Regions from separate parts of the Homo sapiens genome. Here region 2 is linked to region 1. A link means that fine-mapping ties the variant in region 1 to the expression of a gene that starts in the linked region. Tissue or cell type: whole blood. Region 1 holds a variant in brackets; the other region holds the start of a gene. All regions are shown on one strand. Distances are from middle to middle. Region 1 overlaps GATAD2A (GATA zinc finger domain containing 2A). Region 2 holds the start of GATAD2A (GATA zinc finger domain containing 2A).

Evidence for each region.
Region 2: GATAD2A starts here. The variant in region 1 is fine-mapped to the expression of GATAD2A in whole blood (INTERVAL, PIP 0.94).

Annotation. Positions count from the first base shown.
Region 1 is chr19:19,443,613-19,448,612 of GRCh38, forward strand. All of the region lies in intron 1 of GATAD2A (GATA zinc finger domain containing 2A), which reads left to right. Among named protein-coding and RNA genes, the nearest start is that of MIR640, 11 kb to the left of the region's middle. RefSeq lists an enhancer at 2,389-2,508. The variant G/A (reference allele first, on the strand shown) is at 2,230.
Region 2 is chr19:19,403,433-19,408,958 of GRCh38, forward strand. It overlaps GATAD2A (GATA zinc finger domain containing 2A), which reads left to right and starts at 2,243. Exons shown (of 12, transcript NM_001384528.1): 1 at 2,243-2,587. RefSeq lists enhancers at 1,399-2,307, 1,745-1,804, 2,308-3,214 and silencers at 1,925-2,474, 3,035-3,114.

The DNA.
Region 1 (5,000 bases):
TGTGGAGGACACGAGGGTGGTCCCCGATGGCCGTGGACCTGGGTGGTAAGCACCTGCAGTTAATCACACCATTATCTACTCTGTGGGTGGATTTGAAATTTTCCTTAAAGAAAAGTGTGAAAATTGGGTTTGGCCCAGGTCTTTTCTCAGGGAGCTTCGTGACTGGATCATCTAGAAGAGGGGAAATGGCCATTTATAAAAGCTGAGGTAGAGGCCACTTGGGGGTAGTTTAGGAGACCACTTGGGAGTAGTTTAAATTCAAGCAGAAAACCATGAGCAGAGACTGGAATTGCCAGAGGGGACCGTGGCCTGTCAGCCCACCAGACAGCCTCTCTTACACACTCTTATTTTCTGTAATTACAACACTCACAGCTACTCTTCGTGGAGCCCTCAGGAAGTGTTAGCAATAAAGTGGGTGCTGTTCCCATTTTACAGGTGAGGAAGCTGAGGCCCTTGTGGGTGAATCAGGCTTTCTGGCTTTGACTGGACAGCTAAGGGCATGAGCTTCTGGGCCTCCTTCCTGTCGCCTCCCTGCTCAGTACCTGGGGCACATCTGACTACCACTCCAGTACCCTGACTCTATGATGAAAACCATTCTCCCCTCCCCATTGGTATTGCCCATCCACAGCAGTCGTAGCCCATCACGAGTGGATAAAGTAGGTGGTTAGCTGGACTTGCACATGACTTGTTTCGTGAACAGTAGTGCTTAGAGTTGTGATCTAGGGACCCAGCGAACAGTGTGTGAGGGACTTCAACCCTGCCTCTCTCCGGTATGTGCTGTGCCTGCTGTGCCCCCCACTCCAGTGTTCTCCTTGGGGCTCCTGAGGCAGCTCCCAGTAGGAGGCCTATCGTTGTTGGCACCCCAAGGGTGTCCCTGATCCCTAAGTAGAAACTTAAGCAGGTATTTGGACAAATAAATGAGTGAAACACCTTGTGACGTTGAGGCCTGTGGCACTTCCCCAATAGTGTGTTAGTGTAAAACCACCGTGTATGATGCCTGTTGGTCCCAGCACTTTGGGAGGCCAAGGCATGTGGATCTCTTGGGCCCAGGAATTTGAGACCACCCTAGGCAACATGGCGAGACCTCGTCTCTACAAAAAGTACAAAAATTAGCCAGGTGTGGTGGTGCGTGCCTTTAGTCCCAGCTACTCAGGAAGTTGAGGTGGGAGGATTGCTTGAGCCCTGGAGGTTGAGGCTGCAGTGAGTCATGATTGTGGCTCTGCACTCCAGCCTGGACAACAGAGTGAGACCTCGTCCCTTAAAAAAAAAAAAAAAAAAGCCACCATGGCAGTTTTGTTTTATTTGGATTTTAGGCAGTGTAGGGCCTGTGATAAGGCCTGGCTGAGGTGGGGCTCTGCTGGTAGTAACTCTTGTGATTCCAGCCCTCTGAGGCCACTTCCTCTTTCTGCCTTGGCTCCTCCTTGGTGAATTCTCCCTTATGTGTCCCACATTCTCATACTCCCAGGCATTGGATCTTTAGCTGGGAGATGGTTCTGAGTTCCCATGTGTACAGTGGGCTTGCTGCAGCCTCCTGCAGTTGTCCTGTAGGACTCGTGGTTGGTGGTGACATAGAGGCTGCCTACCCTGATGGCTGATGGCTGATGGCAGTGTGGTTGTTTGGGGTCTTGTTGTATAAAAGGAGCATGTTTACTGAAGGACCCAGTTCTGTGCTGTTGGGGTCACAGCAAACCTGCTTTTGCCTGTTAGTATTTTAGTAGCTCTAGAGGGGTTCATGGCTATTGGAATTAGTATTTTTGTTTTTGTTTTCTTTTCTCACCTCTTTAAAAAAGCATGTAAAATTCACATGGTAGAATATTCACCAGTTTTAACGTTTTTAAAGTGTGTTGTTTAGTGGCATTTAACCCATTCACAGTATTGTGCAACCATCACCTGTAATTCTAGAACATTTTCATCACCCCCACCCCAAAAGAAACCTTGTCCCCATTAGCAGTCACTGCCTTTTCCTTGACTCTGCTCTCCACCCTCCCAGCAGCCACTTATTCTACTTTCTGTCTCTGGGTTTGCCTCTTCTGGCATTTCATATAAATGGGATCATGCAATATGTGGCCTTTTTGTCTGACTTTTTTTCACTTAGCATGATGTTTTCAAAGTTCAGTCACATTGTGTCAGAGTTTCATTCCTTTTTATGGCCAAATAATATTCCATTGTCTAGATGGACCACATTTTGTTTATCCATTCATCCATTGATGGACATTTGGGTTGTTTTCT[G/A]CTTTTTGGCTATTGTGGATAATGTTGCTTTTAACATTCACCTGCACATTTTTTTTTGAATACCTATATTCAGCTCTCTTGGATATACCTACAAGTGGACTTGCAGGACACTCGGGAGCATGGTGATGCCGTGGGCTGGAGGCCCTGCCCAGGCTCATGTGGGAACTCTGCGTTTAACTTTTTGAGGAACTGGCAGACCGTTTTCCACATCACTCTACTGTTTTACTTTCCACTGTTTTCCACGTCACTCTACCGTTTTACTTTCCACCGTTTTCCATGTCACTCTTACCATTTTACTTTGCACTATGCAGTGTATGAGGGTCCCAATTTCTCTACATCCTTACCAATACTTAATTGGCTTTTTTGATTGTAGCCATCCTAGTGGGTGTGAAGCGGTTTCTCATGGTGGTTTTGATTTGCATTTCCCTCATGACTAATGACACTGAGACAGAGTCTTTTTCACATGCTCATTGGTGATTCGTCTCTCTTCTTTGGAGAAATGTCTGTTCAAGTCTTTTGGCTGTTTTTTAATTGGGTTGCTTGTCTTTTTGTTGCTGAGTTGTAAGGATCCTTCATATGTTCTGGACACTAGACCCTTATCAGGTGTATGATTTGCTATAATTTTTTCCCATTCTATGGGTGTTTTTTTTTTTATTCTATAATGCCCTTTGCACAAAAGATTTTAATTTTGATGCAGTCCAAATTATCTTTTTTCTTTTTTTGATATTGTGCTTATATGTAAGACTGTTTGCCAAACACCAAGTCATGACATTTTTCTCCTGTGTTTTTTCTTCTAAGAGTTTTATGGATTTAGCTCCTAATACTTGGGTCTTTCATCCATTTTGAGTTAATTTTCATATATGGGGTGATGTAAAGATTTTGTTTTGTTTTTATTTTTTTGTAGAGACAGTCTCACTATGTTGCCCAGGCCGATCTCAAACTCTTGGCCTCAAGCGATCCTCCCTCCTCGGTCTTCCAAAGTGTTGGGATTACAGGCGTGGGCCACTGCATAGTGCCTGGCCAGGTTTTGTTTGGTTTTGATCATTATCTTTTCTGTCAGGATGAAGACATTTTGGCATTAACCGGGAAGGAGGTTGAAGGGCAGTGGTAGTTGGGAGTTCTGAAAGTACTATTTCAAATCTGTTTAACAAATGCGTATACATTGCTTCTTCTGTGCAAAGCATTGTGCCTGCATGGGCCCTTGGATGGTAGTGCTAGAGAAATAGGTGTCCCTTGATATCCTGGGGGTGGAAGCCCACAAACAGAGAGGTGAATAAATAGCATGTCAAGTGGTGATGAGGCAGGAAAGGGGATAGAGACCCCCTGGGGGGCATGTGTGGAGGGGAAGCGTTTCTCACTTTGCATTATCAGCTGAGACCTGGGGGAGTGGAGATGCAAAGGCCCTGAGGTGGGAGTGAGCCAGGATGTCAGTGTGGCTCCAGCTGAGAGAACAGGAGAGGGGTTGGTTGGACTTGGGGGACGGGCACAGGGGTGGCTGGATTATGGTCAGGCCAGCAGGACCTTCTGGCCAGGGCTTTGCTTCCGTATTATTAAGTATCATGTTTTACCAAAGAAGCACTGATACAGACCCCCCACTCCCCCACTTCATGGCACAGCTGAGCTTAGCTGTTGCCCAGAGGTTGGTGTGGGTGTCTATACACAGACTCCTCCCACCCCTGAGGGGAAGAGTTCCATTTGCAAGGTAGAGGGTAGAAGTAGGATTTCTGTCCCAGCCCTTACAGCTGTGCAGGAACCTGCTGCAAGGATTGTTTGTGGGTAGACCCACGGGCTGGGGCTGCGTTGAGAGCAGATAGTTTGTTTCATCATAGAAGTAGGTTTCCCTGCTGGCTGTGATCCTCCCTGTGGCTCTGTGATGCTGCAGGATGCTTGTAGGGAGGAGCTTGAGGAAGGGCGCCTGGGCAGGGCCTCCAGCCCACAGCGTCACCACGTTGCTGGGTGCCCTGATGAAAATGGCAACAGATGAATTTTTGGTTCCCTCACTTTCCACTTGACATTTCCTTCCAGGAACTGAGAAGGCTTTTCTGGCCCTTGGAATTTTCTGTGCCAGACCTCCCTGCCGTTTCCAGTCTCAGGCCTTGATGGAGCTGGTGGTCAGGGCCACAGCTTCGCCTGGCTCAGCCCTGAGAGACTACAGCCCTGGAAGGGTTAAGGCCTCCCATTTTGTGATGTGACGCCTGATGGGCACGTAGCAGATGGCATGGAAATGGCAGGCGTAACCCTTCGTAGGCCACGTAGGCTCACGGTCCAGGAGGCATCTGGGAGGGGACAGAGAGCCAGGCCCTTCCCACAGAAGGGGAGCATGGCCAGCCCTCACAGTGACGTCCTACAGCTGGGACTCTGGTCCCCATTTACCTGTGGAGGTTTAAGACTGCCCGGACTCCCCCTTCACAGGCGGCACCTTTGTTTCTATGTCGTGTGTTCCTTGGGCAGCGTCTGTTTCTCTCTCTGGGGCCGCAGGGTTGGGCTTGGGCACAGGCCCTGGCCAACAGCGGCGCAGGTGTGGGGCCACTTCAAGCACGGCCTCAAATGAGGGCAGTGTTGGGCACTGAACAGTTCTGAGATGTCACACACAGAAACCAAGTCCTGATCTCCAGTGTGAGCACAGGGAGCTATTGGTAGTTGTGTTGTGTTGTGTTGTGTTTTTGAGACGGAGTCTCTCTCTGTCTCCCAGGCTGGAGTGCAGTGGCACAATCTCGGCCCACTGCAACCTCCGCCTGCCGGGTTCAAGCAATTCTCCTGCCTCAGCTTTC
Region 2 (5,526 bases), 40 kb before region 1:
CTCCTACTCCCCGTCCGACTTTCCTGGCTGAGAAGTTGGCACTGCCCTCTGGAGCAGGCCCTGTCACCAGTGCACCCCTCACTCCACAGGGGTGTGTCATTAATGTGTTGCAGTTGATGCCTCCCTCTTAAAAAAAAAAAGGGGTGGTTGTCACCCTGGTGACTCACACAGGGCTTGCTGGCTCAAACTCTGGAATCTGTATATCTGTCTCAAGTGTCAGGTCTCCCACCTGACCACACTTTGCTCTGTTTGTAGTTAATTAAATTGACATTAATCAAGACCCAGGTGAGGAGCAGTGAGGTAATAGTTTGCTTGTATTGCTTTAATATACATCATCTGATTAATGATCGTAGCATGAAGCAGTTCTTAAAATATACAGCCACCATGTTAGGGTGAAAAACCTGGATGGTTGCCCTAAACCAACCTTGCGCTTGGGATCAGGGAGCTCTTTGAATTCCTATACCGAGTCACCTGTTTGAGAATAAGACTGTTTTGTTTGTTTGGTTTCTGAATTTGAACATTTGAATTTCTTTGTAGCAAAGCAAAGCAAATTGGTGACATAACTGGGTCAGGGAAAGTGATTGGGAGTCAACAGTTTGTATTTTGTATCATTTTTAGGTTGAATTCTCTTTTGGCCTAGGGGAGGTTGTGCCAGATGTTGCATTAAGTAGTGGGAAGATTTTGGGGGGCAGGGCGGTGTGTTTGGGGAGGTGTGAGGTGGCGGGGTGGAATAAACTACAAAAAGTTGACAATTGTATGTAGAACTCAACACAGAATTAGGAGCTTTTTTGAACTCTGTTTAAGGGGACATACAGCAGAAAAACAATTTTTTTTTTTTTTAGAAAAACAATTTTGTAAAATTTGTTCTACATGAAGTGTTTTTCAGGTTTGCGGTTGAGACCCAATTATTCTTGGGCGTTACATTGATTTTCTTTTCAAATGAAGTAGAATAGAAATAACAGTACAGGCTGGGTGCAGTGGCTTATGCCTGTAATCCCAGCATTTTGGGAGGCCGATGCGAACAGATCACGACATCAGGAGATGGAGACCATCCTGGCCAAGATGGTGAAACCCCGTCTCTACTAAAATACAAAAAAAAAATTGCCGGGTGTGATGGAACGCGCCTGTAATCCCAGCTACTGGGGAGGCTGAGGCAGGGGAATCCGTGAACCTGGGAAGTGGAGGTTGCAGTGAGCCGAGATAGCGCCACTGCACCACTCCAGCCTGGCGACAGAGCAAGACTCTGTCTCCAAAAAAAAGAAAAAAGAAAACAGTACGTTGCATGTGGTAAATTTATGTTTGGTGAAACTTTTGTTTCAGTTGTACATATAGATTTATTAGGGTATGCGATAAAGCATGTCACCACCACTCTTCAGGAGTCTAGGTGTCTCATCAGGAATCGTTTGTTTTAAAACAACATGAAAAGAGGCGGTTTTGGGGATTCCTCAGAACCTGATTTTGGTATTGAGAGCCTTCTTGTGGTAGATTTTCCATGAACTTGATATTTTCCCTATTGAAATTGTATTTCGCTTTATGTAGTTTAACATCTCCAAAGTCCATTCTCTTTCAGGCTTTCATTCTGTCTCCTGTGTTTCCTCCTTGTTACTGGAGAGGGAGGGGTGCAGATTTGCTTTCTTGAGGGGTTTTCACCTTCTCCCTGAGGCACGAGGGCAGATTGGGAGGTAACTGGAGAGGGAGAGCAGTCGTCCCCAAGTGTCTTGAGGTGGGTGGGTCTGGAGCTTTCTTTGTAGAATTCTGTTCACTGCACTGGAGAAGTGATCGTTCAGCCGATCCACACCCCGCCCTCCCCACAGACACCGGGGCCGAAGTTCCCAGAGAAGAGCTTCCGCGTGACGACCCCGCGGGGGTGACATTCTAACCCGCGTTTCAGAGGCAACCCTGAGTTGCTTGAGGTCGCCCAGCTCAGCTGGCGCGAGGTCAGCAGTGAGCGCGTCGTGAGTCAGCCTTGGGTGCGGCCCGCCCGGCTTTGCCGCCGGTGAGTTGGCCACGACCCTTCGGCCTGCGGAGGGCGCTGGGACTCGGCGGGGAGGGAGCCAGCCGGAGCCCGCGTGGGAAACCAGCGCGCCCAACGAGGTGTCGCGTGGGAGCGCGCCGGAGAGGGGCGGTGCTTCCGGGGCGGTACCGTCCGGCCCCGCCCCCTCAACTCAGGGGCCCGCCTTCTACGCCTGGAACCCCGCCCACGAGCTCCTCCCTTCTCGTCAGGCCCCGCCCCTCGGTCGCCACGCCCCGCCCAGCCGGGCGCGGGCGGGCGGCGTCGCCTTTAAGAGCTCCCCGGTGTTTTGGGGGCCGCGGGCCGGGCGCGCTGACCTGGTGCGCATGTCCCGGGCGGTGACGCCGGCGCCGGGCTCCATGTGTGCGGCCGAGGGGCGCATTATCTGGCCGGCGGCGCGGGCGGGCGGGCGGACCGGCGCAGCGAGCGCCGCGGGCCCGGGCGGCCCCACAGGCGGAACGAGCGCGCGCGGCCCGGCGTCCCCGGCCCCTCCGCCGCCCGGCCCCGCGGGCGACCCCGGACCAGCAGCCCCCGTAACCTGCGCGCTGCCCTAGGGCCCGGCCGACCCGCGGCCCGGTAAGTTCTGGACCAAACTTGGCGGGGGGCGGGGGCTGGGGACGCACGGCTGAGACTGGAGCGGCGCGGGCCGCGCAGGGTCGGGGCCTCGGGGGGCTCTGAAGGACCCCTGCATGAGCGTGGAAAAGTGAGAGCGAGCGAGTTCTACTCCTTGTATTCTGGGAGCGTCTTCTTGCGCTGCCCTGGAAAGTTCCTTGCCCCGAGGCGGCCCGGGCACGTGGGGGCCGGGCGGGGGTCCCGGAAAGTCGCGGCGTCGCCCCGCTTCCGTCCTGCGCTTCCTGCGGGGTCGGGGGAAGGGCTGGGCCGCGAGGCGCCTCTTCCGAGTGGTCGGGACGGGTGGAGGCGGCGGGAAGACGGCACGTGGGCGCGCGGGGCGGGGGTCCCGCTCAGGGGCGGGGGTCCGGGGCGGGTTGGGCAGCAACGCTGAACCCCGCGGCGGCGGCGGCGGCGGCGGCGGCGGATCCCGTGTCAGAATAAGAGTCCCCGCGCGCCCACGCCTGGAGGGCCGGCCCTCCCCCAGCTCGCGCCCTTCCTGCCTAACCCCCGGGAGCCGCGGGACCCTTTCCCCTCTCTGATCTCCGGCCTTTCTCAAGGCCCGACACTTTAAATTTGCCTCCCCATCTAGGCGGTGGCTCCATTGATTTCTTTTTTCCCACCTAGAGTGGGTCGGCATCAGTGACTAGACAGCAGCAGCTGGCCTTTTAAAGGGATTATTGCCAAGAATCGGAATTGATCACTTCAACAAGGAAAGGCTTATGGGCAGGGCCCAGGCTGAGAGCCTGACGGACACTTGGATTGTGCGCACACTGGGACCCAGAAATGAATGGTGACCCCTCCCTTAGGAAGTGAATGACAACCCTTAGGTGCGTGTTTCTGCCCTGAGAATTTTGCACAGGGCAAAATTTTGTAGGTCTGACTTAACGTCTTTAGGTGTATAGTTCATCCTTATCTTAAGAGCTGTGGATTCTTTAGATCAAAGTCCGAGTGAGTCACTTGAGCCTTTAATTTTCTTTCTTCCTACCAGTTTACTTCTTTCAGTTTTCTTGGAGTACATAGTGCTGGTTACATCTCTGGTTCTGTGTGCCCATTCACACAGTGACACCTCCTGGCTGTGGCAGCACAGAAACTGAGAGCCCTCTGTGCGGGTGTCTCAGTCTTGGACTGTAGTCCTGTTGACTGACTTAACTCTTCTGGTAGTCGTTACAAGTTTTCTTTTAAACTAGATTACATGAAATAATGTTTGTTGGCACCAGTTTGTTAACATATGCTAAGCAGTAGTTTGTCAGACCTGACCACAAGCTGTGGAGGGCTGATAGCTCATACTAGCCCTCGGGTTTGAGTGCCTACTGTGTGCTAAGCTCCCCTGCACAGACATATTCAGTGCCTATAACAATCCCGTGGGGAGTAGGGAAGTATTATCTGCGCTTTACAGGTCAGGAAATTGGGGCTGCTGGAGGCCAGGCGGCTTGCTCAAGGCCTCTTAGTAGTGAGGCAGAGCCAGGCAGCCCGTACTTGGTGCTCTAGAGCCCACAAATGCTGCAGTTTGCGAACCCTAGTGAGCATTTCCCTGGCGCTTCTAAAATACAAGGCCATTTTCTTGTCCAGGATCCAGGGCACCTCTGTTTGCGGATGTAGGGGATAATCTGGTGACATGGGGACACCATGCTAGCCCTGCTTTGTTCTAGTGGAGCAGCGTTACCAGCTGGATTTTAAGGAACTGAACTACAGAGTTAGTTGCTACTTTGCATTCGCTTCTTCAGCTTTGGACTCAGAAAAGTTGGCCCTTTTCTAGAGGAAACAGTTTATAGGATGTGGGAAATTTGCAAGGGATTTTCTGTATCCTCTGTCTTCACTTATTCCCTCCCCTCCTTCATCTTTCAGTTCTTATTTGTCTCATAAAATTCCGAAGCTGGTTTTTATGAAGATTGCTTCTCATCTTGGAAGGGCTATAGAGAATGGAAAGATTTGGATGCAGTGTGTTTTGTTTGTTTGTTTGTTTTTTTGAGACGGAGTCTCGCTCTGTCATCCAGTCTGGAGTGGCACGATCTTGGTTCACTGCAACTTCCGCCTCTCAGGTTCAAGCAATTCTCCTGCCTCAGCCTCCCGAGTAGTTGGGACTACCATGCCCGGCTAAGTTTTGTATTTTTAGTAGAGACGGGGTTTCACCATGCTGGCCAGGCTGGTCTCGAACTCCTGACCTCGTGATCTGCCCACCTCAGCCTCCCAAAGTGCTGGGATTACAGGCGTGAGCCACCACGCCTGGCGGATGCATTGTTATTTCCACTCAGATGACATCATTTTTTAAAATGTCAAGTCATCTCTATTAATGCAGTATCATTTGGCAAATCCTATAATCTTATATTTTGATAGTGAGGGAAAAATATAATGCTACTTTCGGTAGGAAAAAATCCTGGAAGGATTTGTACCAGAATGTCAATAAAGGTCTCTACATTAGGATTAGCAATAGTTTTTCTTTTTTAGAAAACTTTTTAGTGTCTCTGTATTTTGCGTGTGTGTGTATGTTTTTAATGAGGAAACATGTTTTAAATACTCTAATTTTCAACTCTTCAGTAGCTCCTCTGACTTGTTTTGCATCATTTATTTTCTGAATTTCTGGCATTGCAGGTAGTGATTTCTAGATTGATATATTCAACAAATATCAGAGTGCATACTGTGCCTTCGACACTGCGAGGAATCCCTCCTCAGTAGAGTTTATAGTGAGATTAGTGGGCCAGGAGTCGTAATTAATCTTATAAACATGGGGAAACTTACAGGGATCAAGGAGAGAAGGACACTGTGACCTGGTGAGCCCGAAAGGACCTTTCTCCTACTGGGGTCAGAGAACAAGAAGGGGGACCCTCTTGAAGGGGATTAAGGCAAGGGCTGGTGCAGTGAGGCTCACAGCCGGGACCTCTTTGGGTCTTAGCAGATGACTAAAG